Linked DNA regions of Homo sapiens. The protein of the gene in region 4 interacts with the protein of the main gene of each other region in a pairwise test. Each region holds a gene or a part of one and is shown on either strand. Other genes may lie near its edges.

Region 1 (5,030 bases), on a different chromosome or scaffold from region 4:
GGACCCACTTGAGGAGGCAGTCTGCCCGTTCTCAGATCTCCAGCTGTGTGCTGGGAGAACCACTGCTCTCTTCAAAGCTGTCAGACAGGGACATTTAAGTCTGCAGAGGTTACTGCTGTCTTTTTGTTTGTCTGTGCCCTTCCCCCAGAGGTGGAGCCTACAGAGGCAGGCAGGCCTCCTTGAGCTGTGGTGGGCTCCACCCAGTTTGAGCTTCCAGATTGCTTTGTTTACCTAAGCAAGCCTGGGCAATGGCGGGCGCCCCTCCCCCAGCCTCGGTGCCACCTTGCAGTTTGATCTCAGTCTGCTGTGCTAGCAATCAGTGAGACTCCGTGGGCATAGGACCCTCCGAGCCAGGTGCGGGATATAATCTCCTGGTGCGCCATTTTTTAAGCCTGTCGGAAAAGCGCATATTTGGGTGGGAGTGACCCGATTTTCCAGGTGCTGTCTGTCACCCCTTTCTTTGACTAGGAAAGGGAACTCCCTGACCCCTTGTGCTTCCCGAGCGAGGCAATGCCTCGCCCTGCTTCGGCTCGTGCACGGTGCGCGCACCCACTAACCTGCGCCCACTGTCTGGCACTCCCTAGTGAGATGAACCCGGTACCTCAGATGGAAATGCAGAAATCACCCATCTTCTGCGTCGCTCACGCTGGGAGCTGTAGACCGGAGCTGTTCCTATTCGGCCATCTTGGCTCCTCCCCCCGCCCTGATGTTTACTTTCTTAAAAACTGCCATGTGCTGTGCTCTGGCTAAGTAAAGAAAAATTTTAGCTATCCTACAAAATGTGTGGCTGAAATGTTGTCAAATATTTATATAGAACAAATATTTAAAAGTTCTTGATAACTAAACTTGATAACTGGATAACTAAACTTGAGAGAAGAGCCTCATTAATTGCTGATTGGAATTAGGAGAAAAATCATATGTTTTATGTATATATAACTATGTTGTGTGTGATAGTGAGTAAAATATTGCTATTTGATTATAGATGTTCACTTTTAATTCTTTCTCCATTTGGATACTTTCTATTTAGCCCTCCAGATCTACTCTTCCCCTTACATACTCTGCTCTTTGCCTTGAAGCCCTAAAAATTATGTCAACTGACTCCTACCCCTTCTGCTTTCCTTTTGGGTTTGGCCAGCGGGAAACCCAAGCAGGACATTGGAGAAAGGAAGAAGTATGAAATTGTATATTTCTCTAGTTCATGAGATTCCCCTATGCCTGGCCGTTCCCTTTACAGCTGGTCATTGATCCTTTCAGTTATCTTCTTTACACTCTTCCTGGGTTCTCAGACTTTCTCCCCAAGTTCATTTGAGACTAAAGGGAGAGATAGCCTGTCTGATACTAGCCCTGGGTTCCTGCACTATTCTTTTAGTTTCCCTACACACTACCCACACCTTATAATAAGGCCCTTTGTAAATAAACTCTCCTTGGCTTAAGCTATTTCGAGTGTGCCATCCATTTCCTGTTAAGACTGACTGGCAAACCATTGTTCATCACTGTAGGTCCCTAACTTATATGTGGTCAAGGTCACTCCTTTGGTTTATTGGAGAAGGGCGTTGTTATGGTTTATTTAACCAGTTTATTCTTCTTATAGTTTCACCATTGCCCACAGGGAGTTTTTCTTGCATATGCTAATAGCTCCATTGTTTACCCAGAATGAAGGTTTTTTGTTTATTTATAAATAGTTTCAAGTGTTGTTTTATTGGGATTATGAGAAGGATGGAAGGTGAAAGCAGACGATAAACTGCAAAGATTCAAATGCCTATACTAAAATATAAATTTTTTTATCCTACTTAAAGAAGTTTTCAAGAAAGAGCACTTTATAATGTTTCCTCCCCTCCACATACTGATTAGCTTCCTATAACTACATTCTATCTAAAATAAATAACTTGAAAGTTGTCTAGTTTTTATTTGGCTGTTTGTTAGATTTTAACTCTAATATACTTGAAAAAATTTAAAAAATTTAATGTGAAAACACATTTTAAAATGTTTTCTTTACCCCAAAATATTAATTTCAGTAACAAAATTGCATTTCAATTTAGCACCAACTTCCTAACAAAGAATACTTACTTATATAGAAATGTTTTCTCTTTATATAACTCAAAATACTATGAAAAACAAAAAACAAAATCAATAAACAGATTAAATTCCATTTCCATACTCTGTGACCTCTGTATTACCCTATTAGCAGTGAACAAAATGCCGATCATCAAACAAATACTCCTGGATCACCTAATGAGGAGGCCTCTGGGATTCTATAATCTTAGGTGTTGTGTCTGAGTGATACTTCCATCTGATCTCATCAATTTCACCATCATCAAGTATAAATGAAGCCAGCACTGGAACCTGAGAAAAATAGTTCTTAGCCAGGATATGTTTGTGTTTGATCTTGTGAATAAATGAGCGTTCATATCCCTGCAAAGAAAAAAATCAAATTCTAGTAAATATCACAGATATATTTTGCCAGGTAAAAATACTGTCATGCCTCGGTGCCTTTGCTTGTCAATTCTTTCATCCCAGACTACCTTTATTTTTCTCACGTTGTCTATCATCATTCACGACTCAGCTCCTATGATACTTTAACCTGGAAGTTTTCCCCAACTCTCCCTCTGACTTCTCTAAGTTTAAACCACTGCTAGTTATCAACTCAATATTCATTCTTTCTCCCATTTGAGCCAGAGGCCTGATTTTGTATAGGGTGTGATGTGTCTAGCTTTCTTAGCCCTTATTCTAACTGGGGGTATCTAGTTAGAATATATATATATATATATATATTATTAATGTTATAGATATTGAGGTGAGAAAAAACAAAAATAAAAACAAAACAAAACAAGGGAAGTCTGAGAAACTGTCACCACCAAGAAGAATCTAAGGAGATAACTAAATATCTTCCAAGATTATTTAATTATACACAATATATATAACCTTATATAATTATATATATATAATTGAATAAAGCCTTTGAAAGGGACTTTTGAGAGTGGGAAGACTCACCTATCAAGCACCTCTAGCCTTTTGCCATTACTGAGAGGTACATGTAATGAAGAAGATGAACTAGCTATCCTATCACTAAGAGCCCACCAAGCATGAGAGAGAAAGCTGAAGATTAAATATGGCTGAGGAAAAAGTGAGATGGCCTGAATTTCTGAGAACAAGGTGGAGCCACCATACTAGCCCCAAACTGCCAACCTTTGAACTTTCTTGTTACATAAGAAAACTAAACCCACATTTGATTAAATCATTATAAATTGCTTTTTCTGTTCTTGTAGCTGAACCTAAATGCAACTGAGACAACAAAAAGTTATATTCATTAAATTTTCTTGTTTCTCTGTAATTACTTAGTACAGTATTTGGCACATTCAAAAGTAAATTCTGGTTAAATTAATAAATATAATCTATTACCTATTAATCTTAATTGGCCCTCTTTTCAATCAAATCACAAATACTACCTATACTTCTTCCTAAAATTTATTTTCTGAGAATAAGACATTCCCTCAATAAAGGTCTCTTCAGAGGGTCAAATCAAAGATAAAAGAAAGTCCTGGGTGAAAGGACCAAAAGAGCAGAAAACATTATATAGGAGTATCCTGGGCTTATTAAAATTTCCTCTTAACAGAAAAATTTACTAGGTTAAAATATTCATCTTTTGAGCTAATCTAACTTTGTTTCTACCACTTCTTAGCCCATATTTCATTCAAGAAAAACTAACACACTTTATTATGCTATATTAACTTACACATGTACAGAACTTTATAGGTTTTCAAGGTGCCTTTACAGTACTATAAATTATTAAAGATGAGATAAATTATGATATATGTGTTCAAGGCACTAATAAGTAACTCTTAAATAACTGAATATATTTCCATATTATATTATTTATATTGTTAAGTAAAGCAAAGAAACTAAGTCTCAGAGTCATTTAATATGAAATTCCTGCTACAGTAAAAGTATATATACTTACATACACATAGAAAACTTCCAGAAGGATTTCAATAGATTATTATATACCTAAGAAATAGTAGTTATCATTGCAACATGGAGATAGGGATGGGTGGACATCAAGAGACCTTTTTTCCCATTGAAATAAGGTCCATTCTCTTGAAATAGCCATGTGATGGTTTTAAACTATGTTCACAAATTCTTTGGGTGTACAAATAGTTCTAAGAATATTACAGAAAGGTCCCATATACCCCACACCCACATTTTCCTGAATGTGTCTCAATCTGGGTTTGTCCTGTGTTTTCTTCATTATTATTAGACTGAAGGGATGGGTTTTGGGGAGGAAGACCACAGGGGTGAAGTGCCCTTCTCCTCACATCATATCAAGGGTACACACCATCAGCATGACAGCACTGCTGCTGTTAATCTTGATTACCTGGCTGAGGTAGTGTTTGTCAAGTTTCTCTACTGTAAAGGTCCTCCCCTTCCATCCATAATATAGTCTTTGGAAAGGAGTTATTATGTACAGCCCACATTTAAAGGGTAGAGAGTTATTCTCCATCTCCTTAAGAGTGGAGAGTATCTACATAAATTATTTGGAATTCTACATGGGAGATTTGTCTATTTGCCTCCCTTTATTTATTCATTCAGTCGTTTTTTAAATTTTTTAAATTGATAATAATTGTACATATTTACGGGGTACATAGTGATGGGATGATACATATATCATGATCAGAGTAATTAGCATATTCATCTCAAACATTTATCATTTCTTTGTGCTGGGAACATTCGATATGCTGCGTCTAGCTATTTGAAACCATATATTGTAATTAACTATAGACAACCTACAGTGCCACAGAACAGTACTAGAACTCACTCCTCCCATCTAGCTATAATTTTTGTATCCTTAACAAATCTCTCCCTGTTCCCTCAACCTCTGAGACCTTTACTTTCTACATTACATTTTTTATTCTGTTCAGATTCTAAGCCAATAATATATTGCTTTAAAATTAAAAATAAAATGCATCAAAAATTTTTAAAGTGCTTTCATAGTTACTACCTAAGTTTATTCATGCCAAAAAAAACTATGCAGA
Region 2 (9,127 bases), on a different chromosome or scaffold from region 4:
TCAGCCCCCCGCCCGGCCAGCCGCCCCGTCCGGGAGGGAGGTGGGGGGGTCAGCCCCCCGCCTGGCCAGCCGTCCCATCCGGGAGGGAGGTGGGGGGGTCAGCCCCCCACCCGGCCAGCCGTCCCGTCCAGGAGGTGAGGGGCGCCTCTGCCTGGCCGCCCCTACCGGGAAGTGAGGAGCCCATCTGCCCGGCCAGCCGCCCCGTCCGGGAGGGAGGTGGGGGGATCAGCCCCCCGCCCGGCCAGCCGTCCCGTCCGGGAGGGAGGTGGGGGGGTCAGCCCCCCACCCGGCCAGCCGCACCGTCCGGGAGGGAGGTGGGGGGGTCAGCCCCCCGCCCAGCAGGGAGGTGGGGGGTGGTCAGCCCCCCGCCCGGCCAGCCACCCCTTCCGGGAGGGAGGTAGGGGGGTCAGCCCCCCGCCCGGCCAGCCGCCCCGTCTGGGAGGTGAGGGGCGCCTCTGCCCGGCCGCCCCTACTGGGAAGTGAGGAGCCCCTCTGCCCAGCCACCACCCCGTCTGGGAGGTGTACCCAACAGCTCATTGAGAACGGGCCATGATGACAATGGCGGTTTTGTGGAATAGAAAGGGGGGAAAGGCGGGGAAAGGATTGAGAAATCGGATGGTTGCCATGTCTGTGTAGAAAGAGGTAGACACGGGAGACTTTTCATTTTGTTCTGTACTAAGAAAAATTCTTCTGCCTTGGGATCCTGTTGATCGGTGACCCTACCCCCAACCCTGTGCTCTCTGAAACATGTGCTGTGTCCACTCAGGGTTAAATGGATTAATGGTGGTGCAAGATGTGCTTTGTTAAACAGATGCTTGAAGGCAGCATGCTCGTTAAGAGTCATCACCACTCCCTAATCTCAAGTACCCAGGGACACAAACACTGCGGAAGGCCGCAGGGTCCTCTGCATAGGAAAACCAGAGACCTTTGTTCACTTGTTTATCTGCTGACCCTCCCTCCACTATTGTCCTATGACCCTGCCAAATCCCCCTCTGTGAGAAACACCCAAGAATGATCAATAAAAAAAAAAAAAAAAGAGGATATATGGATTGTAAATAATATGAAGAGGCTCAAAATCATTTATCATTAGAGATTTGCAAATTAAACCAAAATACCACTACACACTTATTAGAATGGCCATAAAGCCTACAAAAAAAACCAACAGCTAACACCACACTTAAGGCTGAGAAACTGTATACTTCCCCCAAAGACTGGGAATAACACGAGGATGTCCTATCTCACCACTCCTATTCAACAGTGTTCCAGAAGTCCTAGCTAGTGAAATGAAGCAAGCAAAGGAAATAAAATACCTTAGGAAGAAAGGAATAAAGTGGTCTTCATTTGCAAAAGACATGATTGTTTATTTAGGAAATGCTAAAGAATTAACAAAAAAAACCCCCTAAAAGTAAAAAGTGAGTATAGCAAAGTCACAGTATATAAGGTTAATATACAAAAGTCAAATGTTTTCCTATATACTGGCAATAAATGATTAGAATGAAATATAAAACTAAAAACACCATTATCATAGCACAAAAAACACTTATAAGTCTAACAAAATATGTAAATGATCTGTATGTGACAAATTACAAAACTATGAAAGAAATCAAAGAAGGTTTTAGCTAGAAAAGGATAGTGGAACAGGACCTCCCCAGCCCTTGTCCTTCACAGAAACACCAATTTAGCAACCATCTATGTATAAAAGTGCCCTGATGGGTCCAAGTAGAAGGCTGTGACATCCTTCTGGAGTCCAAGACTGATAGAAGCCATTTTGAGAAGGCAGAATCATGCCCCAGTAGCAGGCATGTGACTACAGAACTGGCTCCAGACCCAGCAGCAGCCTCATCAGCATGTGGGCTTCAACTCACCTGTCCAAGGTCTCACAGGAAGACTTGTTTGTCTGGGAACCCAGAAGGAACCACACCCACCCAAGCCCCAGTAACAGGCCCACAACCGCAGACCTGATTTTGAACATGTAAGCAGACCCACAACCTGGCTCCACCTAAGTGACTGTGGTTTGGAAGTCAGTCTCACCAAGGGACCCAGCAAGAGAAGATCTTCATCTACTGAAATCACTCTGTTTAGTACAGAAGTGGGAACTGCTCCTTCAAATGTACAGACACCAATGAAAGACTCAAGGGATTATTAGTAAATACAACATGCCAAAGGAAACCAATAAGGTTACAGAAACTGACTATAACAAGATGAAGATCCATGATCTGCTTGACAAAGAATTCAAAATAATCATCTTAAGCTCAATGAGCTACAAAAACAAACAAACAAATAAACAAACCCAGATAGAAAATGAAATAAAAATCAGGAAAACAATACATGAACAAAAAGTTCAATAAAGGAGAAGCATAAAAAAGAACCAAACAGAAATCCTAGAGCTGAAGGATACAATGACTGAACTAAAAAATTCAATAGAAGGCTTCAACAACAGACTCAATCAACCAAAAGAAAGAATCAGCAAACCTGAACACCGGTCATATGAAATTATACAATTAGAGGAAGAAATATTAAAAAGAATAAAAAGTGAAATGAAGTAATACTACGGGACTTATGGTACACCACTAAGTAACTTAATAAACACATTATAAAAGTTCCAGAAGGCAAAAAGACAGAGAGAAAGGGGGCAGAAAGCACATTTAGATTATGGCTGAAAACTTACCAAATCTAGGGAGGAAAATGGACATCCAGACTCACGAAGCCCAAAAGTTCCCAAATAGGTTGAAGCCAAAGAGGTCTGTACCAATAGACACTATAATGAATTTGTCAAAATTCAAAGACAGAGAAAAAATTTTGACAGCAGTGACAGAAAAGTAACTTATTTCATATAACAGAGCCTCCATAAAGGTATTGGTGAATTTCTCAGCAGAACACTTGCAGGCCAGGAGAGAGGGAATGACATATTCAACATACTGAAAGTAAAAAAAGAAACCTGCCAACTGAAAATAATTACCTGAAAAAACTGTCTTCAGGAATGAAGGAAATAGCCAGGCATGGTGGCTCACACCTGTAATCCCAGCACTTGAGGAGGCTGAGGGCAGGCAGATTGCTTGAGCTCAGGAGTTCAAGACCACCCTGGCAAACATGGTGAAATCTTGTCTCTACAAAAAATACAAAAATTAGCCAGTCATGGTGGTGCATGCCTCTAGTCCCAGCTACCTGGGAGGCTGTGGTGGGAGGCTGACTTGAGCCCAGGAGGTTGAGGTTGCAATGAGCTGAGATCATGTCACTGCACTCCAGCCTGGGCAACAGAGCCAGACCTGGAAAAAAAAAAAAAAAAAAAAAAAAAGAAAAGAAAAAGATAAAAGAATAAAGAAAACATGAAAACTTCCTCAGATTAAAAAACTCAGGGAGTTTGTCACTTTTAGACATGCCCTAACAAGAAATGCTAACAGGAGATCTTCAAGTTAACTGAAAAGATACTAAACCAACAGTATGAAAGCATATGAAAGTATACATCTCACTGCTAAAAGCAAACATGAAAACAAACATGGAATATTGCAATACTGAAATCTGTGGCACGTAAATCTCATTGAACACTAGTATATAAATTAAAAGACAAAAATAGTATGAGTAACTACAACAACCACAGAAATTTGTTAATAGAAACAATATAGAAAGAAGTAAAATCTGAAATCAATTACATACATTGGTGAGGAAGAGGGGGGAGAAGTGTAGAGATTCTGAATATGAATGAAGTTGTTACTAGCTTTAAAAAGCCTGCTATGACTACATAATATTTGATGCAAACCCCATAGTAACCAAAATAAAAAGTATAGTAAATAAACAAAAAAAAGAAAAAAATCAAAGCATTCTACTACAATCATCAAATCACAAAGACAACAAACAAGAGAAAAACAGGAGAAACAGAAAGCAAATAGAAAACAATGAATAAAATGGAAACAATTAAGTACTTAATTATTAAAAATTATTACTTTAAATTTTTAATAATTAAGGGCTCTCAGTAGACATGGAATGGCTGAAATGGATAATAAAAACAACACTCAACTATACGCTATCTACAAGAGACTCTAACATTTAAGGACACACGTAGGCTAAAAGTGAAGGGATTGAGAAAGATATTCCATGCAAACTATAACCAAAAGAGAGCAGGGTGGCTATCTATATCAGACAAAATAGACTTTAAGTCGACAACTGTCAAAAGAGACAAAGAAGGCATTATATAATAGTAAAAGGGTCAATTCAATAGAAAGATACAACAACTAAAAATACATATGCACCCAACATCAAAGCACCTTAAAATATACAGTGAACATTGACAGATTTGAAGGAAGAAATAGATATCGATACAATATAGAAGGAGACTTTGATACATCACTCTCTATAATGTACAGGTCATCCAGACAGAATGCCAACAGCAAATATTGATAGAATTGGAGGAAGAAATAGATATCAATACAATACAGAAGGAGACTTTGATACGTCACTGTCTATAATGTACTGGTCATCCGGACAGAATACCAACAAGTAAATTGCAAACTATACAACACTATAGACCAAAGACCTAACATGCATATACAGAACATGAGACCCAACCATAGCAAAATAATCATTCTTCTCAAAAGGACATGAAACATTCTCTATAACTGATCACAGCCTAGGTCACAAAACAAGTCTTAACAAATTTAAGAAGACTAAAAACATTCTAAACATTTTGTCTGATCACGAGGGAATGAAACTAGAAATCAATAATAGAAAGAAAATGGAAAAATTCACAAATACAGGGGAATTAAATAACATACTATTAAATAATACTGGGTCAAAGAATAAATCAAAACAGAAATTATAAAATATCTCAAGACAAACAATAATAAAAACACAGTATACCCAAACATATAGGATGCAGTAAAAGCAGAATAAGAGAAGTGTTTATAGCAATAAATTCATTAAGAAGAAGAAAGAGGCAGGACACAGTGGCTCACGCCTATAATCCTAGCACTTTTGGGGGCTGAGGCAGGCGGGTCACTAGGTCAAGAGATTGAGACCATCCTGGCTAACATGGTGAAACCCCATCTCTACAAAAAATACAAAAATTAGCTGAGCATGGTGGTGCGTGGCTCTAGTCCCACCTACTTGGGACTCCCACCTACTCGGGAGGCTGAGGCAGGAGAATCACTTGAACCCGGGAGGCGGAGGTTGCAGTAAGCCAAGATCATCACGCCACTGCACTCCAGCCTGGTGACAGAGCAAGACTCTGTCTCAAAGAAAAAAAAAAAAAGGTCTCAATAAAACAACCTAACTTTACACCTCAAGGAACTAGAAAAAGAACAAACTAAATCCAAAATTAGCAGAAGGAAGAAAATAATAAAGATTAGATTAGAAATAAATGAAATAGAAAATTGAAAAACAATTTTAAAAATTGACAAAACTAAAAGTTCCTCTTTTGAAAAGACAAACTAAATCAACAAATCCTTGGCTAGACTTTAAAAATAGAAGACTCAAACAAAATCAGAAATGAAAGAGGACACAATTGATCCCACAGATATAAAAAGTATCATAAGGGACTATTATGAACAATTATATGCCATCAAATTGGACAATCTAAAAAAAAATGGGTAAATTCCTAGAAAAATATAACTTACCAAGACTGAATCAAGAAGAAATAGAATGCTTGAATAGACAAATAACAAAAAAGGAGATTGATGGAATAATCAAAAAATTCCCAACAAAGAAAAGCCAAGAGCCAGATACATTCTAGCAAACATTTAAAGAAAAATTAATACAAAACCTTATTAAACATATCTAAAAAAAAAAAAAAAAGAAGAGGGAACACTTCCAAAGTCATTCTGAGGCCTGCATCACCCTGATACCAAAGCCAGACAAATACACTACAAGAAAACTACAGTCTAATACATTTGATGAATATAGACGTAAAAATCCTCAATGAAATGTTAGCAAACCAAACACAACAGCACATTAAAAGAATCATATACCATGACCAAGTAGGATTTTTCATTGTGATGCAAGGATGGTTCAACATATGACAACCAACCAATGTAATATACTGCATTAATAGAATGAAGGATAAAACTCACATGGGCATCTGCACAGATGCAGAAAAAGCACTTGACAAAATTCGATACTCTTTTGTGATAAAAACTCCCAATAAACTAGGTATGGAAGAACCTTATAGCAAATTAGGTAAAGGAAAAACAAAATAAAGTCCATTTATGAGAAGCCCACAGCTAAGATACTTAAAGATAAAAAACTGAAAGCTTTCCCCATAAGATGAGGAACAAGGCAAGGTTGCCTACTTTAGCCTCTCCTATTCAGCGTAGTATTTTAAGTCCTAGCCAGAATAACTAGGTAAGAAAAATAAATTAAAAACATCCAAATAAAAAGAGAAGAGGTACAATATCTGTTTGCAGATGACATGATCTTAGATGTAGAAAACCTTAGGGACCCCAACAAAAATGTGAGAATAAACAAATTTGCCTTTAAAAAAGAAGGAAATCCTGCCATTTGCAACAACATGGATGAACCTGAAGGACATTATGCTAAGTGAAATAAGCTAAACACAAAAAGACAAATACTGTATTATCTCAATGTATGTGAAATCTAAAATAGTCAAATACATGCAAGCAGAGAATAGAATGGTGGTTGTAAGGGAACATGGGGAGAACAAAATGGGAAGCTGTTGTTCAAAGGGTACAAAGTTTCAGTTAGGCAAAATAAATAAGATCTGCAGGTACAACCCAGTGTCTGTGATTAGCAATATTGTATTCTTAAAATTTTGCTAAGAAGTTAGATCTAATGTTAAGTGCTCTTATCACAAAACGTGAAAAAAAGATGAGTAGAAGGAAACTTTTCAAGGTGATGGCATTGATTTCTTGTAGTAATAATGGTTGGATGGTTTCACAATATCTACTTATCTCCAAACAGAAACTGTATACATTAAATGTCTATAGCTTTCTGTATGTCAATCATACCGCAATAAACAGGTTAAAAAATGAAGCAGCACCAGATCCCTGTACACACACCTCTAAAAATAGTCCCTTTGTATATAAAGCACCCCAAATTTTCTCCTTCTGAGTGTGTTATCTACTTAATTAAGGGCCTGGACTACAAAATCCAAGTTTTCACTTTTCACCCAAAGTTTTCCATTCTCACACACAGAATTTTCTCGTTCAGTTAGCAGATGCAAGAAGAGAATTTCAGATATTAGCTTTAAATACTACATTCTTGTCTATACCTGGTATTACTAGCTCTACCTAATTCATTTTCTTTCTTACCATGAAATTATAGAAACAAAAAGGTTACTGCAAAACACTTATAAACATATTGTCAGCATGAAATAATTATAATTATCCTATAATAAATTGTACCTTTTGAACAATTTTGGTCACTTTTTGATCTTCGTGTATTAATAAGTTAATACATGTAAATCATAACCAGAAGGGAAAATCAAAACATTCCACTTACCAAGTAATGATGAAAAAGAGAATGTGTGTGATTTAGTTAATTTAAAATATTATAGAAAGCAACAAATAACAGAAATGGTATCTGGGATAAAGTTCCTGGACCTGGATAAGGATGTTTGGTGATATCTCAAGCTGTTCAACACCTTTGCACATGCCATTTCTTCAAGCTTGAAGAGATACAGAGCAACTCCTTCCCTCTCCCATTCTCCATCTGGCTAATACCCCTCGGCATCCTGCTTAAATGTCACCACCTCAAATAAGTCTTAGATCCCAAACTAATTAATCCCCCTCATTAATTTTCTCTAATAGACCCAGTTCTTTTCCTTCTTGGTACTTATCATAATAAAGAACCAAAATCTGTGCCAAGGGTCCAAAATAGCACTCTACCTGAAAAGCAACACTTAATCCTTGTCATTTCTCAGCTCTATTTCAGAATGAGCTGGGTTACTACCTGGGGTCCCATAACGACCTATATCCCAATGGCCTAGAAATAGAAGGAATACACCGATTCCCCCTCTTGATGCTGATTCTTCACTTTAATAAGCCACCACCATTGTCAGTCAAGATGTTTTGCACTGTCATCGGTCCCAAACTCCTGCTGGTTAGCCAGCTGTCTACTTCCAAGAAGAAAAGGTGAACACAGAAAAAAAGGCAAGAAATTCAAAATATCTATGCTTTTTACAGAAAGAGTAAATGGTACAATTATTTTGGAAAACTTACTGGTGATACCTACTAAAAGCTGACATACATGGGGCCTATGAAACAGGAATATGACTCTGAAGAATGTACACAACAGAAAAACACATACGTGAACCAAAAGATTTGAACGAACTGAGACTTTAAACAAAATGATTCATTTTTTAAAAACTGCCCCAAAAGTAATAGCATGGAATTTATTTCTAAATGACTAATTTTCTTGCATGGAGTGGGACTTTCATTAGATTATCAAAGGAGATTTTTCCCAAAGAAGAGTCATAAATAGGTATATAAACGATTAAGAACCTTTGCTGGAAGGAGGTAAGTTTCTGAACTATAAAAGTCTAGTCAGCCAGTAACGTGAAACTCAATAACTTACATAAAAACATCTACCACAACTGTCCATGGACACTTCATAGAAGAAAAGTAATACATAACAATACCTTGAGTAATGAACCCTTTGAGAATGAAGCTCCTTTAAAATGAAGTTATCACATTAAAATGAAGTCATTATATTAAAATGAAAACAGAACAATTCATAAATCAGGTGAAGCTGGGTTAGTGTGATCTTTTCCTCCAATTCGCATTACCCAGCTGTCCAGGATACAAATCATCCCTTTACACACCGTTTCTCTATCTTTAAATAAGGAAAGGTAAGAAGGTCACCGATTTACAAAATCCTAAATTTAGTAAGCTTCCTACTTTAAGCCCCTCGCCACTCATTTCCACAGCCATTTCCCCAGGGTAGAGCAACTGCTCCCTCTTTATGAACCTACCTTTCTGTTCCTAGTCTCCTTTATCAACATGGTAGGCAACAGCTTATTGAATATACTTTATAGACTTGTGCATGCACATTTTAGTCACTATTTTTCAGCCAATAAATTACTTCAACTAAACATTTACATTTCTAGACAGAGATAATTTTAGGTACTGTCAAATGGGAGATAACTAGAAAAAGAGAAAGTCATCCTGAAATCACATTA
Region 3 (7,308 bases), on a different chromosome or scaffold from region 4:
TGAAAACTATATATATAGTTTTATATATTGAAAACTATATATATAGTTTTATATATTGAAAACTATATATATATAGTTTTATATATTGAAAACTATATATATATAGTTTTATATATTGAAAACTATATATATAGTTTTATATATTGAAAACTATATATATAAACAATACACACATACACACATACATTTTATACATATGTGAAAACAACAGCCAAAACTTTTTCAAATTTGATGAAAACTACGAACTCACAGACCTAAGCAGCTCAACAAACTCCAAGCACAAGAAACATGAAAAAAACTACAGCAAGGCACATCATAATCAAATCACTTAAAATCAGTGGAGAAAATCTTAAAAGCAGCCAGACAAAAAAAAGGCCCCTTGTGTACAGAGAACCTCAGAAGCAATGCAAGCCAGGAGACAGGAGACCATTTTAAAATACTGAAATGAAGGTGGGGGAGGGGGCGGAAAGGCCTGTCAACTTAGAATTCTATACCCATGAAAGTATCTTCAAAGTGAAGGCAAAATACTTTTTCTTTCTTTCTTTCTTTCTTTTTTAGACAGAGTCTTGCTCTGTTGCCCAGGCTGGAGTACAGTGGTGCAATCTCAGCTCACTACAAGCTCCGCCTCCTGGGTTCACACCATTCTCCTGCCTCAGCCTCCCAAGTAGCTGGGACTACGGGCATCCACCACCATGCCCGGCTAATTTTTTGTATTTTTAGTAGAGACAGTGTTTCACTGTGTTAGCCAGGATGGTCTCGATCTCCTGACCTCGTGATCTGCCCACCTCGGCCTCCCAAAGTGTTGGGATTACAGGCGTAAGCCACCGCGCCCGGCCCAAAATACTTTTTCAGACATAGAAAAGTTGAAAGAATTTATCACCAAAAAGGTCAAAAGTTTAAAAAAAAAAAAGTCACATGAAAACAAAAGTCAAGCAACACAATACTAATATCAAAGTAAATTTCAATGTAAATTTACTTTGTAAATTTCATCTGTAAAATTTTTACAGATGTAAAATTTACATTTTACAGATGTAAATTTCATCTGTAAAAATTTTACAGATGTAAATTTCATCTGTAAAAATCAGGATGAAAGTTTATTGTTAACTGATGAAACCTATAATTCACAATGAAGTTTACTCTGTGAACTTTTATGTGTCAGAGTACAATGTTAGAAAATAAGGCAACAGTAACAGAACTGTAATTGTAGCAGGAAATATAAGTATCCCTCTTTAATTCTTAATAAATCAAGTAGGCAAAGGACAAGAATCTATAGGTTTAGACAGCTATCAATAAAGCTAATTTAATGCAATACCTATATACTCTACAAATAATACTCCTTTTCTACTGTCTGTAGGACATTTACAAAAATGATAATATACGTGGCTACAGAGAACATCAATAAATTCTCCAAAGCGGAAATGCACAGGGCACATTTGATTACATGTGACTATACAATGGATTACACAATATGATAAAACTAGAAATGTAAAAAGTAGAGGGGGAGAAGAGGACAAGGCAATAGGGTAGGAGAAAATTCATAAATTTTATACAAAACTCTGGTATCAAAATTGGCCAACAACAAAAAAAACCCTACAAGCCAATCTCACTTATTAACATAGAAAGAAAAATTATAAATCACATGGCATTCTGGTTTGTATACTTTAATCTCTTGCGGGTTTGGTACATCATAAGTATGATATGTTGAAGACACTGAGTTATTGGTCCAATCACACTAACGGCAAGATCCTAGATTATGGTGAAATTACCATCAGAAAGCCATTTCAGATCTCCCTCGGCTCTCTTTCACTCAAGACTAACCCTGGTGACACACACATCATTACTTGTGCTTCCTTCTATGAGTGACAATGAGTGATGGGAGATAAATCTAGAAAAAGCCGAATGAGACGTCTACATTGGGGCAGCACTGAAAACTTCTAAGTGACGTGCTGTGAGGCATGGTTAAGGAAGGTTGATCTGCTGACGGACTAAAGCAGGAGAAAGTCTGAAGTAGAAGCTAATTATAGGATTTCAATAAGTGTAGTCTAGGTAGTAATAAAAGTAACAGTGGGGCCAGGCATGGTGGCTCACGTCTTTTATCCCAGCATTTTGGGAGGCTGAGGCACGTGGATCACTCGAAGTCAGGAGTTCCAGACCGGCCTGGCCAACATGGTGAAACCCTGTCTCTACTAAAAATACAAAGTTAGCCGGGCGTGGTGGCACACATCTGTTATCCCAGCTATTCGGGAGGCTGAGACAGCAGAACTGCTTGAACCTGGGAGGCGGAGGTTGCAGTGAGCCGAGATCATGCCAAAGCACTCCAGCCTGGGCAACAAGAGCAAAACTACATCTCAAAAAAAAGAAAAAAAAAAAAAGTAACAGTGGGTATGGAAAAGGGGTGGCATTGATGAGACTGACAGAACTGGTCAGCAGGAAGATACAGCAGTAGTACAAGGTACAAATGATACCATCAAGAAAGTGAACACACAACCCACAGAATAGGAGAAATTATTTGCAGATCATGTAACTAATGAGTGACTTGCATCCAGAATACCTCAAGAACTCTTATGACTCAATAATAAAAAGATAAATAACCCAACTGAAAAACAGATAAAGGATCTGAAGAGACATTTCTCCAAAGAAGATATACAAATAACCTATAAGCATATGAAAACCACTCAACATCATTAGTAATTAGAAAAATGCAAATCAAAACTACTAAACATCCCTTTTCACTCACTAAAATGGCTGTCAAAAGACAGACAGACAATAACAGGTGTCGGTGAGGATGTGTAGGTATTATAACCTCCATACATTGCTGGTGGGCATGTAAAATGGTACAGCTACTGTGGAAAGCAGTGTGACAGCACCTCAGGGAGTTAAACATAGAGTTACCACGTTAATTCAACAATTCTCCTAGGTACATACCCAAGAAAAATGAAAACATATGATGTCCACACTAAAACTCGTACATGAATGTTCATAACTGCATTATTCTTAAAAGCCAAAAAGTGAAAACCATCATAAGCTCCATCAACTTATGACTGGATAAACAAACAGGATATATCCTTAGAATAGGATGTTTGGCAATAAAAAAGAACGAAATACTGATAGATGTGACAACACGGCTGGCACTTGAAAACGTTATGCTAAATGAAAGAGGTCGGACACAAAAGGCCGTATCTTGTATGACTCCACTTATATGAAATGTCCAGAATAGACAAATCCATAGAGACAGAAAGTAGATTCGTGGCTACAGGTAGAAGAAATGGGGAGCAACTGCTAACTGGGTTTCTTTGAGGGGAGACAAAAGTTCTAAAATTAGATTGTGGTGATGGGTATACAAATCTGTGAATATACCAAAAAAAAAACCTCTTTATTACTTATGAATTATGTCTCTGTAAAGCTGTTTAAAAAAGAGTAATGTGGCCGGGTGCGGTGGCTCACGCCTGTAATCCCAGCACTTCGGGAGGCCGAGGTGGGTGGATCACAAGGTCGGGAGTTCGAGACCAGCCTGACTAATATGGTGAAACCCCGTCTCTACTAAAAACACAAAAATTAGCTGCGTGTGGTGGTGGGTGCCTGTAGTCCCAGCTACTCGGGAGGCTGAGGCAGAAGAATCACTTGAACCCAGGAGGCGGAGGCTGCAGTGAGCCAAGATTACCCCACTGCACTCCAGCCTGGGCGACAGAGTGAGACTCCATCCCAAAAAAATAGAAATAAATAAAATAAAGAGTAATGCAAGGCAAACTGATGTACCAATGCCGACTTTGAATTTCATGACTGAGTGACTAGGAAAATGTCATCATTAATAGGAAATAACAGCAACTACTATTTATGACATACATATACAAATATATAAACTGCTTAATACAGACATTGTACAAAGTCTATGCAAAGCACTTTATATGCTCTGTCTCACTTAATCTTCACAGCAACCCACTCAATAGGTATTTTTTACTTCCATTGTACAGAATTGGAGATAGACAAAAAAGCTAAGCAACTTAAGGTCATATAACTGGTAAGCAGTAAAATTGAGATTTAAATCCAAAGTACTTGTTCAGGCCCACTATAGCTTAAGAGGTGGAAAGAAAAGGTGAATATAATTTTTTCTTCTTTTTTTTTTTTTTTTTGAGATGGAGTCTCTGTCGCCCAGGCTGGAGGGCAGTGGTGCCACTTCAGCTCACTGTAACCTCCGCCTCCCAGGTTCAAGCGATTCTCCTGCCTCAGCCTCCTGAGTAGCTGAGACCACAGGTGCGTGACACCACGCCCAGCTAATTTTTGTGTTTTTAGTAGAGATGGGGTTTCACCATGTTGGCCAGGTTGGTCTCGAACTCCTGACCCTCATGTGATCTGCCCACCTTGGCCTCCCAAAGTGCTGGGATTACAGGCATGAGCCATCGTGCCTGGCTGTGAATATCACTATAGTTTCAGAGTATGGAAAGTAAACGTGAATATCATTTTCACAAATAATCTATATAATTTTATTATATACAATGCATTCACAAACTTTCGCACGCTGACCATCCTTAGACTTAAGATGGCCCAAGCCAGGCATGGTGGCTCACTCCTGTAATCCCAGTACTTTGGGAGGCCGAGGCGGGCGGATCACCAGGTCAAAAGATGGAGACCATCCTGGCCAACATGGTGAAACCCCTTCTCTACTAAAAGTACAAAAAAAAATTAGCTGTGCATGGTGGCCCATGCCTGTAGTCCCAGCTACCTGGGAGGCTGAGGCAGGAGAATCACTTGAACCCGGGAGGCAGAGGTCGCAGTGAGCCAAGATCTCGCCACGCGCTCCAGCCTGTGTGACAGAGCGAGACCCCATCTCAAAAAAAAAAAAAAAAAAAAAAAAGACGGCTGGGCACAGTGGCTCATGCCTGTAATCCCAGCACTTTGGGAGCACGAGACGGTGGATCACCTGTGGTCAGGAGTTTGAGACTGGCCTGGCCAAGAAGGCGAAACCCTGTCTCTACTAAAAATACAAAATTAGCTGGGCATGCTGACAGATGCCTGTAATCCCAGCTACTCAGGAGGCTGAGGAAGGAAAATCTCTTGAACCTGGGAGGCAGAGGTTGCAGTGAGCGGAGATTCTGCCACTGCACTCCAGCCTGGGCAACAAGAGCGAGACTCCATCTCAAAAACAAACAAACAAACAAATAAACAAACAAATGAACAAACAAACAAAAACCTTAATAAGATACCAGCAGTTAGTGGGCCGGGCGCGGTGGCTCACGTCTGTAATCCCAGCACTTTGGGAGGCTGAGGCCCGTGGATCACAAGGTCAGGAGTTCAAGACCAGTCTGGCCAAGATGGTGAAACCCCATCTCTACTAAAAATACAAAAAAATTAGCCGGGTGTGGTGGCCGGCACCTGTAATCCCAGCTACTCTGAAGGCTGAGGCAGAGAACTGCTTGAGCCTGGGAGGTGGAGCTTGCAGTGAGCTGAGATCCTGCCACTGCACTCTAGCCTGGGCGACAAAGCGAGACTCTGTCTCAAAAAAAAAAAGATACCAGCAGTTTTATGCCACTTTGCACATGTATTTTATTTTTTTAATCCAATAGCAACAGTTCTAAAACAAACACACCGATGCCAGCCTGTTCCACTATGCTTCTTAAAAGCTATTTGGCTTTTTTTAACGCAGATGAAGGGCAACATACTGAAGAAATCCTGAACTAGATGACCTTCAAGATTCCTTCCAACTTTGATGAGTTTAATAACAGCCACTATTTATTATTCGGCTGAGGAACTCCAAGTCAAATTTTATACGTGATTTAAACACCTATTAAACATCCTAAAAACACAGATGACAGCAATATAATAGGGAAGCAGACCCACCAGCTACTTATTGTGAAGTCCTTCAGAGGTTTCTTTAATCAGAGCATATGGTAACTTGCATGCTTACTATAGAAAGCATATTTAAACATAGTAAATGTTGCTTCAGTAAATTTAAAGCCTGGCACAAATGTACAAAAACACCAATACCCTATGCCTACTCTTTACATTAGTGAAATGCTTTAGAGTTCACAAAGCACACTATGTAAACCTGCGTTGTGCAACACTCCCGTATCATTGCATCCTTTTGAAATATGAGTAAACTGAAGCTCAAATTAAAAGACCTGCCAGTGGTTACACGTCTCAGAAATGGCATGTCAGCATTCAAACAGCAGTATAACTCCAAATCTAACATTTTTCTAAGTTAAGAAAAAAAATTCACTTGGCAGAAAAATTTATCTGACATTAAATGTTCTATCAGTGCAAAGTATGGCATTGATGGGCCTTAGAAGGTGTAACATCTCTTCAGAAGAGAAGAAAGAATCTTCTGGTCTAGAGGAATTAAAAATCTTAACAAAATACATTATTATTTTTGCTAAAAGAGAAATGATTACAGTAAGTAACTTTAAAAATGGTATCGTGATCAAGTTGATAGCTTACCTAATGCAAAGCTGTATTCCTGGGATAGAGTTCCTTATGCCATGGCCATCAAAAAGCAACATGAATAGAATGAGGAAGAAGAACCCATTTCAGTTTTGCTTCAAATTAAAATCACATTGACTTCTGGAAGGAAGAGTAACAGTGAAAATGTAAAAGAGATGCTATGTACACGTGTATTTGCTAATAAACACTAGAGATGTACATTAGCGGCAGAAAGAAAAGTAATCAAGACTGGCATTTTTGGTTATATTAAATTCCATTCTGCAACTTCATAGCTCCTGCTTTTGTATTTTTTAAAAAAACAAACTTATTTTGTAATAATTTTAAATTTTCAAAAAAACTGAAAAGATAGTGCATAACTCCCATATACCTCTCATCCATTACTGTGGCATATTCATTAAAACTAGAAAACATGGTCAATGACTATGTAATTTTGCAGAATTAATATATCCTTTGGAACAGTGCTATTGGTCTCCTGACCATTGTCAATCAGTATTCTTCCATTTTTTTCCTAATTAGAACACTTTGGCCAAATCACTTAGTAAAAACTATTTTAAGATGTTTTTTAAAAAAACAAGCCACCTGCTTTATGAAGTTTGATTCATGATTCCCTTCAATTTTAAGCCACGGCTGAATGTTTTACTTAAAAACTTCTAGGACAAACATTCTATTACAGCAAACTCTCTGAGATTCAAAAGAGAAGGTAACGTTCTAGAAACTAACCCCCCATTTATCGATCATCCTTCCATTGAATTTCAATAAAGCCAAGGAAATGTTTTTAACTGTACCCTCACGTGCATTAGAATTCAGGATAAGAAGCTGAAATCAAGAAAGCAGAAGGCAGAAACAGTACTCATTTCAAGAAATTAACAACAT
Region 4 (9,406 bases):
ATGTAAAGGAACAATGTAATATTCTACAGGATGTCTAGGTGGTCCAGATCTCTTTGGATTACGACAGAGAGCAAGAGAAGTAACATAACCTTCCGGCAAAACTGCATTTTAATTCCATGCAAATGCAAAATGTTTTTGATCCCTGATAGGTACAGAAAAGAACAAATCCACCTAGTCAACAACTACCTACCATATCTGGCAGAGAGGCTATTACGGATACTTTTTTTTTTTTTTTTTGAGATAGAGTCTCACACTGTCACCTGGGCTGGAGTGCAATGGCATGATCTCGGCTCACTGCAACCTCCACCTCCCAGGTTCATGGGATTCTCCTGCCTCAGCCTCCCAAGTAGCTGGGATTACAGGTGCACACCACCACACCCAGCTAATTTTTTGTATTTTTAGTAGAGACAGGGTTTCACTATGTTGGCCAGACTGAACTCCTGACCTCGTGTTCCGCCCACCTTATCCTCCCAAAGTGCTGGGATTACAGGCGTGAGCCACTGTGCCCGGCCAGGGATACTTCTTAGATGAGTTTGCAGCAGTGTACCCAAAACAACTACTGGTTGACAGCAAATAGAGTAGGCTGCCATTCTCCAGGATCCTTGTGACTTCTGCAGGGGTCATGCTGGTAAATTAAAAATGTTGGTAACCACCACTTTACATCACTTGGATCCTTAGAAGTGGCACTTATCTCTGCCATTCCCGCTCTGGGATAATTGTTTTATAATCTTGGTAGGGGATGGGGCAGTTTCAGGTTTCTGTTTGGCTTTTTCCATTTTGTTATCTAACTCTATAGGTCAGGGACCTGGAATGAGCATTCACTGCCAAGTATGTCAATGCCAATTACTCACTCGAAGGCTAAGAAAATATCACTAGATCAGTCCACTAGGTCTACGGGTCCACTGTAAGCTGGACCTTTAGCAGAACTCCATCAATTACCTGGCCACCACATGCAGCCACTCTAACAGAAGGGGATGATATTCTAGGCATCTGGACATCAATTTAGACCCTGTGTCCACAAGTCTTCCAAATGTTTGGCTAATCACTTTTCTCCAGGATGTAGTTATCAAAAGAAATTGCTATCAGACCCTTTGGAAAAGTACCTGGGGATTCATTTCTGTTGTACTTGTACTGTTATAGGTCCTTCTTCCTGGTGTTTGGCCACCTCTCAAGTAATGTTTCCATTTCTGAAAACTGGCTCAGTTCCAGAAGCTGGGCATGGAATCCTGATTTTTTAAAACTGGGACAAGCATCTTTATTTATTTTTTTCAATTGAGACAGTCTTGCCACATTGCCCGGGCTGGAGTGCAGTGGTGCAACCACAGCTCACTGTAATCTTGAACTCCTGGGCTCAAGTGATCCTCCCACCTTAGCTTCCCCAAATGCTGAGATTACAGGCACAGGCCACCGTGCCTGGATGGATTTTTTTTTTTTTTTTTTTTTTTGCCAGCTGAGTAGTACCCTTCTTAGCTGCCCACCTGTTTTGCCTCCAGGGATGCCATGTTTATTGACCAGTTCTATAACCATACAAGTGAGGTCCCCTTGGCTGCCACTCAGACCCTGCTGGCTGCTATAATTGCAATCCTCTGACTTCTGCCAGCTAAGTGTTGCCTTTGGCTTCTTGGGTTTTTTTCTTTGGTCCCCACTATGTCCCAGAATGGCCTCTTTTGTCTTAGGATCCTATCATCCCCAGTGCTATCACCCAGCCAAGTTCTGGAACAGCCTTTCTATTGTCATTCTTGCCTACAGAGATGAGCCATCACTGAATATTTTAGTGACATCAGTGCCCCTTTCATCATCCTATGTCTAATGATCTTTATAAATGACGTGTTATTTACACCTTCATGTGGAATATGATCGTCTCAAATGTCTTCTAGATGCACGGAGTATATAAATTTCAACATGCCCACACCCCTGAACCTTTTACTCCCTTCCACCACTGTCTGCCATAGCAATTTTGCCATTTCAATTTTGCTTACCATGGCCCATGGCTTTTTCCAAGTGTGGTGTTTTAAAAATATACTGGCAAATTTTTTGATATTCTTCCCTTTAGAAGATGAAGCCTAATTCCTCTCCTTTTGAATATGGGTAATTTAGTGACTCATTTCTTCCAAATAGGAAGTAGCCGAAGTGATGGTATGCAACTTCTGAGGCTGGTTCACAAAAAGGATACAGCTTTCTTTTGTCCTTTGTCTTTAGATTGCCCTTGGAATCCAGCCATCATATTGTGAGAAAGCCTCGGCCACAGGGACCGGCCGTGTAGGGGTGTGCTGGCTGACATCCCCAATCTGGGCTGCAGCCAATCTCCAGTATCAGCTGTCAGACATTCGAGCAGATGAACCTTCACTCATTCCAACCTCTAGCCTCTGAACTGCTCCAGCTGAGGCCTCAGACACTGTGGAAGAGAGATAACCAATCCCCACTATGTCTGACCCACAGTAACCTAGAGAGATCACCGATCCCCACTATGTCTGACCCACAGTAACCTAGAGATAAGAAATGATTCTTGTTTTAAGCCACGAAGTGTGGAGTAATTTGTTAGGCAGCAGTAGCTATACCGCCATTCTAGGAGCCATCCTTGCAGGAAGTCTGCAGCCACTCTTTGCCAAGGTGTTAAATCACGTATTTCAATAAACACATCTATGCAAGTTTACATTCCAGCTCCCTTCATCAAGCACCCTCATAATCCAGCCCCAAACTTTCCCAGCTCCTGTCAGTACATGTTGGCTGGGTGGTACAGCTTGTTATGGGCTGAAGTGTGTCCCTCTCAAAAGATGCTGAAGCCCTAACCCCTGGTCAATGTGAATGTGACATTATTTGGAAATGGGTCTTTGTAGACAAGTTAAGATGCGCTCATTAGAGTGGGCCCTAATCAGTATGACTGGTGTCCTTCTAAAAAGAGGCCCATGTCGAATGACCTTTGTCAATGATGTTACTTATGCCTTCGTCTGGAGAGACACACACAACAAGATCACCATGTGAATATAAAGGCAGGACTGGGACAATGCCTCTATAAGCCAAGGAACCAAAGACTGCCAGCAAACCACCAGAAGCTGGGAGAGAGGCATGAGACAGATTCTCCCTCCCAGCCCCAGAAGGAACCAACCCTGTGAAAACTTTGATCTCAGACTTCTAGCCTCCAGAACTGGGAGACAATAAATGTCTGCCCAGTTTGTTACTGAAGCCCCAGCAAACTAATAACGCAGTTCTTCTGAGGGGGAGGGAGCTATATTCTCTTTTCTATCTCATTGTTTCCAGCTGAATAATGCAAAAGAAACAACCATAATTATACATCTACTGAGCAGTAAGTGGAGGGAGGAGGAGTAGTGTCAGGTTAATAGGAGAGGTGAGCCACCCCGGCAGGCTTCAGGTTCAAGGCAGGCCAGGTGTGATGGCTCACTGGAGCCTAGAAGTTTGAGACAAGCCCGGGCAACATAGCAAGACCTTGCCTCTACAAGTAATAAAAAATGTATCCAGGTGTGGTGACACATACCTGTAGTCCCAGTTACTTAGGAGGCTCAGGTGGGAGGATCGTTTGAGCCCAGGAAGTTGAGGCTACAGTGGGCCATGATCCAGCAACTGCACTCCAGCCTGGGCAACAGAGTGAGACACTGTCTACGAAAAAAAGGTTTAAGGCAGTTTGGGGAGTCAAAACCTTTGAAGGCATCTACCCAGGTATCTCCAACCCATGTATGACGGGCTTTTCTTTTCTTTCTTTTTTTTTTTTAAAAGACAGAGTCTCACTCCTGTTGCCCAGGCTGGAGTGCAGTCACAGCTCACTACAGCCCTGACTTCCAGGGCTCAGGTGATCCACCCACCTTAGCCTCCCAAGCAGCTGGGACCACAGCCGTGGCCACCATGCCCGGCTAATTTTTTGTGTTTTCAGTAGAGATGGGGTTTTGTCATGTTGCCCAAGCTGGTCTTGAACTCCTGAACTCAAGCAATCTTCCCGCCTTGGCCTCCCAAAGTGCTGGGATTACAGGTGTGAGCCACTGTGCCCAGCCTCATCTTTTCTTAGCAGGGATCCAAACTTAGTGGAAGAGTATTGCCTTGTTTGGGTGTTTTGCTATTTTTGGAGTTCAGTCAAACAGGGATGTTAATTCCTGGGCCTGGTTCTTGTCTTTGACCTGCTGCAGTAAATGAAGCTTCTCTATATGTAACGGGACAGATTCACTGGCTTACAACTGTTTGTTGCTTGCCTTCAGCTGACCACTATTCTTAAGAGTCTCGGTTGGCACTAAGCAATAGCTATCCAATCCCCCTTTCCTTCCTTTTATCTACTACGTTCACCATATATGAAATGTCTGATACTTCACCCACTCGTGGATTCCATTTCACTAGTTCACCCTCCTACTTCACCACTGGTGAGTGATGCAGCCTCGAATCCCATCTTCTCACCAGCTTTAATGCTGCAGAATGGTTTCTCCAGAAGCAGACGCTGCGACTGAGTTTGGGGTACGAGGATGTTGACATGGTATCAACACCCGTGAAAGGAAGGGGAAGGAAGCAGGACTGGGCGGAGGAAGAAGGGTATGTAAGTCCCGCAAAGCTTTGGCCAACCTCGTGTGGAGCTCTGGAACGAGAACTGCTGAAGTTCGCCAGACTCGGGCACTCCTGCCTAACTCAGTAACAGGCGGGCGGCATCGGGACACGGACACGCTGCTCAGGCCCCGCCACAGCCACCCTCGCACCGTCAGACACACTCCCACACATTCGGGGAGCAGGGCCTTCAGGACGCCGGCGGCGCCCTCTCAGTCTAGCTCCGCCAGGCCCCTCGTCCGTCCTCCCGCCCTCCAAGGTCACCTCGCGGTCCGACATGGCTGCTGGGGCTCCTTCGGGGCCAACGATGTGTACTTCTAGGGCTGTTTTTTAAAGCAAAGGAGTGAACACAGGTAAAGGCACGAGAAAGGTGCCTCGACGCCACCACGGACTGCGCAGCGTTCGCGATCAGCACAGCCCGAAAGGGAAGACAGCGGTCAACGCGGACGCGCCATGGCGCGGGGACCAAGGAGGAGCCCCGAGAGGGGCGGGGCTGGCCGGAGGGCCGCGCGCGGGGCCACCAGCGGCGCCTAGGGGTCAGCGCCAACGCCCACGGGTTGGTCATCCCCACTTAGGCGCCTCGGGCCGCAACTAAGCAGCCTGCCCGCCTCAAGCCCGCCACCCTCAAGCAGGCCCAGCGCAGAGCCTGTCGGGAGCGGCGCTCTCCCGCCTCTCCCAATGGGAGCCCGGAGCGGCATCGACGCGTCTTCGGGGCCAATGGAAGCGAGGCTCTGGTGTTGCTGGGCGGGGCCGGGAGGGCTGCGCGGGCCCGAGACCCACTGCGCACGCGCGCTCGCTACCCGCCCTTCCCGCCGCGCACGCGCTCCCGTGTAGGGCCGGCCGGGCGCTCAGGAGCGCGCGGGGCAGCGGCGGCGCGGCGGAGCCATCCGCGCTCGTGCCCGCGCGGGTGCGTTGCTGTCCTGGCCGCGCCCCTGTCCCGCCGCCTCCCGCTCCTCGCCTGGCGGATGTAGGTTGTTGGCCTGAGGGGAGCTACGTAGCCGAGGTTTGCGCTGCCGCCGCCAGGCCCGGTCCGGTTCCAGCCTCTGCCCGGACGCTAGCCGGCCTGGCCATGGCTGACCGCGGGTGCCCGCTGGAGGCGGCGCCGCTGCCTGCCGAGGTGCGGGAGAGCCTGGCTGAGCTGGAGCTGGAGCTGTCGGAAGGTGAGCCGGACCCCGCCCTCAACCCCCGCGACCCGCCCTCAGCCCGGTCCCCCGCGCAGCCCCTCACTCCGGGACCCCCGCGCGGCCCCTCACTCCAGGACCCCCGCCCTTCACCCCCGGGACCCCCACGCGGCCTCGCCCCTGGGACCTCTGCCCCTCAACGGGACCCCGGTTCCTCTACCCTGGAACCCGCCCCTCGCCCCGGAGACACCGTTCCTCAACCCTAGGACCCCGCCCCTCATGTGGGACCCCAGCACGACCCCTCGCCCCGAGACCCCGGCCCCTTACCCCCGGGAACTCCCGCCCCTCACCCCCGGGACCTCCTGCCCCTCACCCCCGGAACCCCGCGCGGCCCCTCACCCCGGGGACCCCGCCCTTCACCCTGGGAGCCCCGCGCTGCCCCTCCGGACTCCCGACCCTCAGCCCCGGGACACCCGCGCGGCCCCTCAAACCAGGGACCACTGCCCCGCCTCTCATACAAGGACCCCTCCCCCATACAAGGACTCCTCCCCCCAGGCCCTTCACACCTGGGACCCTTACTCCTCACCCCGGGACGCCTGCCAAACTTCTGGAGACCTTTCCCTATCCCCAGCTGCTCCCCCAATGGGATCCGACCCCAAGGACTGGCTTTGACTAGGTCGTTTGGACAGGTGTGAGAATCTTGAGAGGAATGACCACTTTTGCCCCAAGCTGTGAGCCCCGCTTTTCTCAAGGCTGTAGGTCTGGGCTTGGTCTGGGCTTCACCAGGATGACTGCGCCCGTTGTCCGCAGGCAGCTACTTCCCTTGGAGCTGGGAGCCCTTGCCGCGCGCCTCATACTCTAGGAGCTGCACCCTGTGCCTCATTTTATTATCTATAAAGTGGGGTTATACCAGCACTTTCCATTTTGGATTGTTATGAGGCTAAAATACCTTAATATATGCAAAGCACATAACACTTAGGAGTTGTTAGCCCCCTCATGGAATTTTTTAAAGTAAAAAAAAAAAGTCGTATAAATGGTTGGTTGATAAAAATAGACTGGAGTAATCTGGCTTCAGAGGTGGTGGGTGGCATTTCCCATTTGGATGTTATCCCTTTCAAGGCCTGTGTCCTGATATTCCTTTTGGCTGTCTTTGGGAAAGAGTTAAGTTCTTCTCCAGTGTCAGAAAGGACTTGCAGTCCTTGAAGAAAAGCATGTAATTGATTCTTACTCTGTTTTTGAGATCTAAATGCATTTTCAGCTTTTAGAATCCATTTTTTAAATAATCTTATTATCCTTAATTTAAGTTTCAGATTGATAAGATTTTGCTGGGTCTGGGGTAGTTATTTCTCAAAACATCTAAATAATATGCACTAGCATACAGTAAGTCATTTAATCCTTGCCAACCTTAGGGAGGTAGATGCTGTTGTGATCTTGTTTTACATATAATACAACATGTACTTGCAACTATTTTGAATTCAGCATTCAGATTTTTAACAATGTTGTGACATGTGGCACATTTTTTTTTTTTGAGACGGAGTCTTGCTCTGTTGCCCAGGCTGGAGTGCAATGGCGTGATCTCGGCTCACTGCAACCTCTGCCTCCCAGGTAGAAATGATTCTTCTGCCTCAGCCTCCCGAGTAGCTGGGATTACAGGGGCTTGCCACCACGCCCAGCTAATTTTCGTATTTTTAGTAGAGGCAAGGTATCACCATGTTGACCAGGCTGGTCTCAAACTCCTGACCTCAGGTGGTCCGCCTGCCTCGGCCTCCCAAAGTGCTGGGATTACAGGCATGAGCCACCGTGCCTGGCTTGTGGCACATTTTTAAAAATGGAAGTACAGGCTGAGTACACAGTGGCTCATGCTTGTAATCCCAACACTTTGGGAGGCCACGTTGGCTTGGAGACGGGAGTTCAGAACAGCTTGGGTAACATAGCAAGACTCTGTCTCTACAGTATTAAAAAAAATTAGCTGGGCATGGTGGTGTGCACCTGTAGTCCCAGCTACTTGGGAGGCTGAGGCAGGAGGATCACCTGAGCACTGGAGCACTCCAGCCTGGGCAACAGAGCGAGAACCTGTCTCTTCTCACCAAAAAAAAAAAAAAAAAAAAAAGGAAAGAAATGGATGGATTTGAGAATTCTTGGTGATTAGATGCTCCTAGGCAGTCTGACAAACTTAAATTAGGAATGGGTTTGACAGGATCTACTGTACTGCATTTGTTAAGGCTCTTTAGGGAAAATCACATATACGCAGTTTAGATTCTGTGCATTTCAAACATATTTTTGCGTATTGCTCCTAATTTCTGCTCCAATGTATTCATTATTCCCTCAATTTTTTGTGTTGTAGTTGTGTTTGAGTGCTTGCTAGGCATTGACAATTGAATCCTTTCCTCAAAGAACTTTATAATTTGTGCGACAGAACACAAGTACTTAAATGAAAGAAATGTTTCCTATCTGTTGGATCCATTTATGCTATTGTCATCTTAGAGATATGTAGGGGATGTATAGGTAAGTAAAGGTATAAGATTATGTAACATGGAGAGGAACCTCGAAAAATAGCTTAAGCTGAGAAAGGGGGTAAACAAAAAAAGTATTGAGCCCAGAAATGGTGGCTTAGGCCTGTTATGTTTGCATTTTGGGAGGCCCAGGCAGGAGGATCACTTGAGCCCAGGAGTTTGAGACCAGCCTAGGCAACATAGGGAGACCCTGCCTCTTCCAAAAAAAAAAAAAAATTGGCTGGGCATGGTGGTGTGTGCCTGTAGTCCCAGCTACTTGAGGGGCCGAGGTGGGAGGATCACCTGACGAGGTTGTGAGCCTTTATAGTGTCACTGCATTCCAGCCTGGGAGACAGAGTGGGACCTTGTCTCAAAAAAAAGTGTTAAAGGGAAGACAGCAGAGAACAGAGTAGTAGAGTGGCAGCCAAGGAGGTGGAAGCTCTGGCTTCTTGGCTTCTTTCCCTGCTCCTAGACTGGCCTGACACTTTTCTTTTGGCCAAAATAGGTCAGTGATTACTTAGGCACAGTCACACGTGGACCTGCTTCCAGGGCGCTTCCACAGGTTAATGCTGGCTTATGTAGTTTATGTGGTGGTTGTTGTTGACGTGGGCTCTCCCTGTTGGATTTGGAGATGCTTACTGGTAAGGACTTTGTTTTAGGCAGATTTTTGGCTTCTTCACACAGTGGTGGGCATCTGGTAAAGTGTCTGTGAATCTCCTGTGGATTACAATGTCTCTAAACGTGGGTTTAGTTAGCTGTAAAAGGGGGTGAATACCAGCTTTATTGACATTCCAGGTTTATTGTCAAGATTCAGTCACATAGTGTGTGTGAAAATGCTTCGAAACTGGTAAGGTGTTTTATTTATATAATTAAAGGGAGATATTAGTAATGAGTTATAGTCCTAAAACAACCAACATTAGTGTTTCATTGTTATAATTTTTATATATTGTCAAAATAGTGTAACTTTTTTATAGCATTCACATTTATCTAAGTGAGAAATTGCCTAAAACTTAAGAGTTGTCACTGTGCTTGGTAGGTTGGAAGAAGAAGCTTAACAGTGACAAAGATGCTGTCTTCAACAGAAACTGGTAATGAGTGATACCTGAATAATCTAGAAAATCCTGCATGCCTTCCCCTCAGCCTGTTGAAAGTATCCTCTGCCTTTCTTCATACCTCACACCTGGCCTTATTCTCCAGCATCCTCACTGCATTCTCATCATCAACCATAGTGATTGGCGTTGGCCCTGAGGGAAG

What was found.
Region 1: the proteins of DIP2A (region 4) and IQUB interact in binary tests that used the Homo sapiens proteins (3 or more experiments, as listed by UniProt).
Region 2: the proteins of DIP2A (region 4) and CEP44 interact in binary tests that used the Homo sapiens proteins (3 or more experiments, as listed by UniProt).
Region 3: the proteins of DIP2A (region 4) and ZBTB43 interact in binary tests that used the Homo sapiens proteins (3 or more experiments, as listed by UniProt).

What each region holds. Positions count from the first base shown.
Region 1 is NC_000007.14:123,450,514-123,455,543, forward strand, and holds the end of IQUB (IQ motif and ubiquitin-like domain-containing protein), read right to left. Parts: exon of another isoform or gene 2,419-5,030; intron 2,413-2,418; coding exon 2,230-2,412; 3' UTR 1,680-2,229; downstream 1-1,679. UniProt on the Homo sapiens protein: Adapter protein that anchors the radial spoke 1 (RS1) complex to the A microtubule of outer doublet microtubules in axonemes. The triple radial spokes (RS1, RS2 and RS3) are required to modulate beating of the sperm flagellum.
Region 2 is NC_000004.12:174,285,956-174,295,082, reverse strand, and holds part of CEP44 (centrosomal protein of 44 kDa), read right to left. Parts: intron 1-9,127. UniProt on the Homo sapiens protein: Centriole-enriched microtubule-binding protein involved in centriole biogenesis. In collaboration with CEP295 and POC1B, is required for the centriole-to-centrosome conversion by ensuring the formation of bona fide centriole wall.
Region 3 is NC_000009.12:126,808,040-126,815,347, reverse strand, and holds part of ZBTB43 (zinc finger and BTB domain-containing protein 43), read right to left. Parts: intron 7,252-7,308; exon of another isoform or gene 7,156-7,251; intron 6,556-7,155; 5' UTR 6,433-6,555; intron 1-6,432. UniProt on the Homo sapiens protein: May be involved in transcriptional regulation.
Region 4 is NC_000021.9:46,453,524-46,462,929, forward strand, and holds the start of DIP2A (disco-interacting protein 2 homolog A), read left to right. Parts: upstream 1-5,367; 5' UTR 5,368-5,608; coding exon 5,609-5,699; intron 5,700-8,947; exon of another isoform or gene 8,948-8,999; intron 9,000-9,188; exon of another isoform or gene 9,189-9,240; intron 9,241-9,406. UniProt on the Homo sapiens protein: Catalyzes the de novo synthesis of acetyl-CoA in vitro. Promotes acetylation of CTTN, possibly by providing the acetyl donor, ensuring correct dendritic spine morphology and synaptic transmission.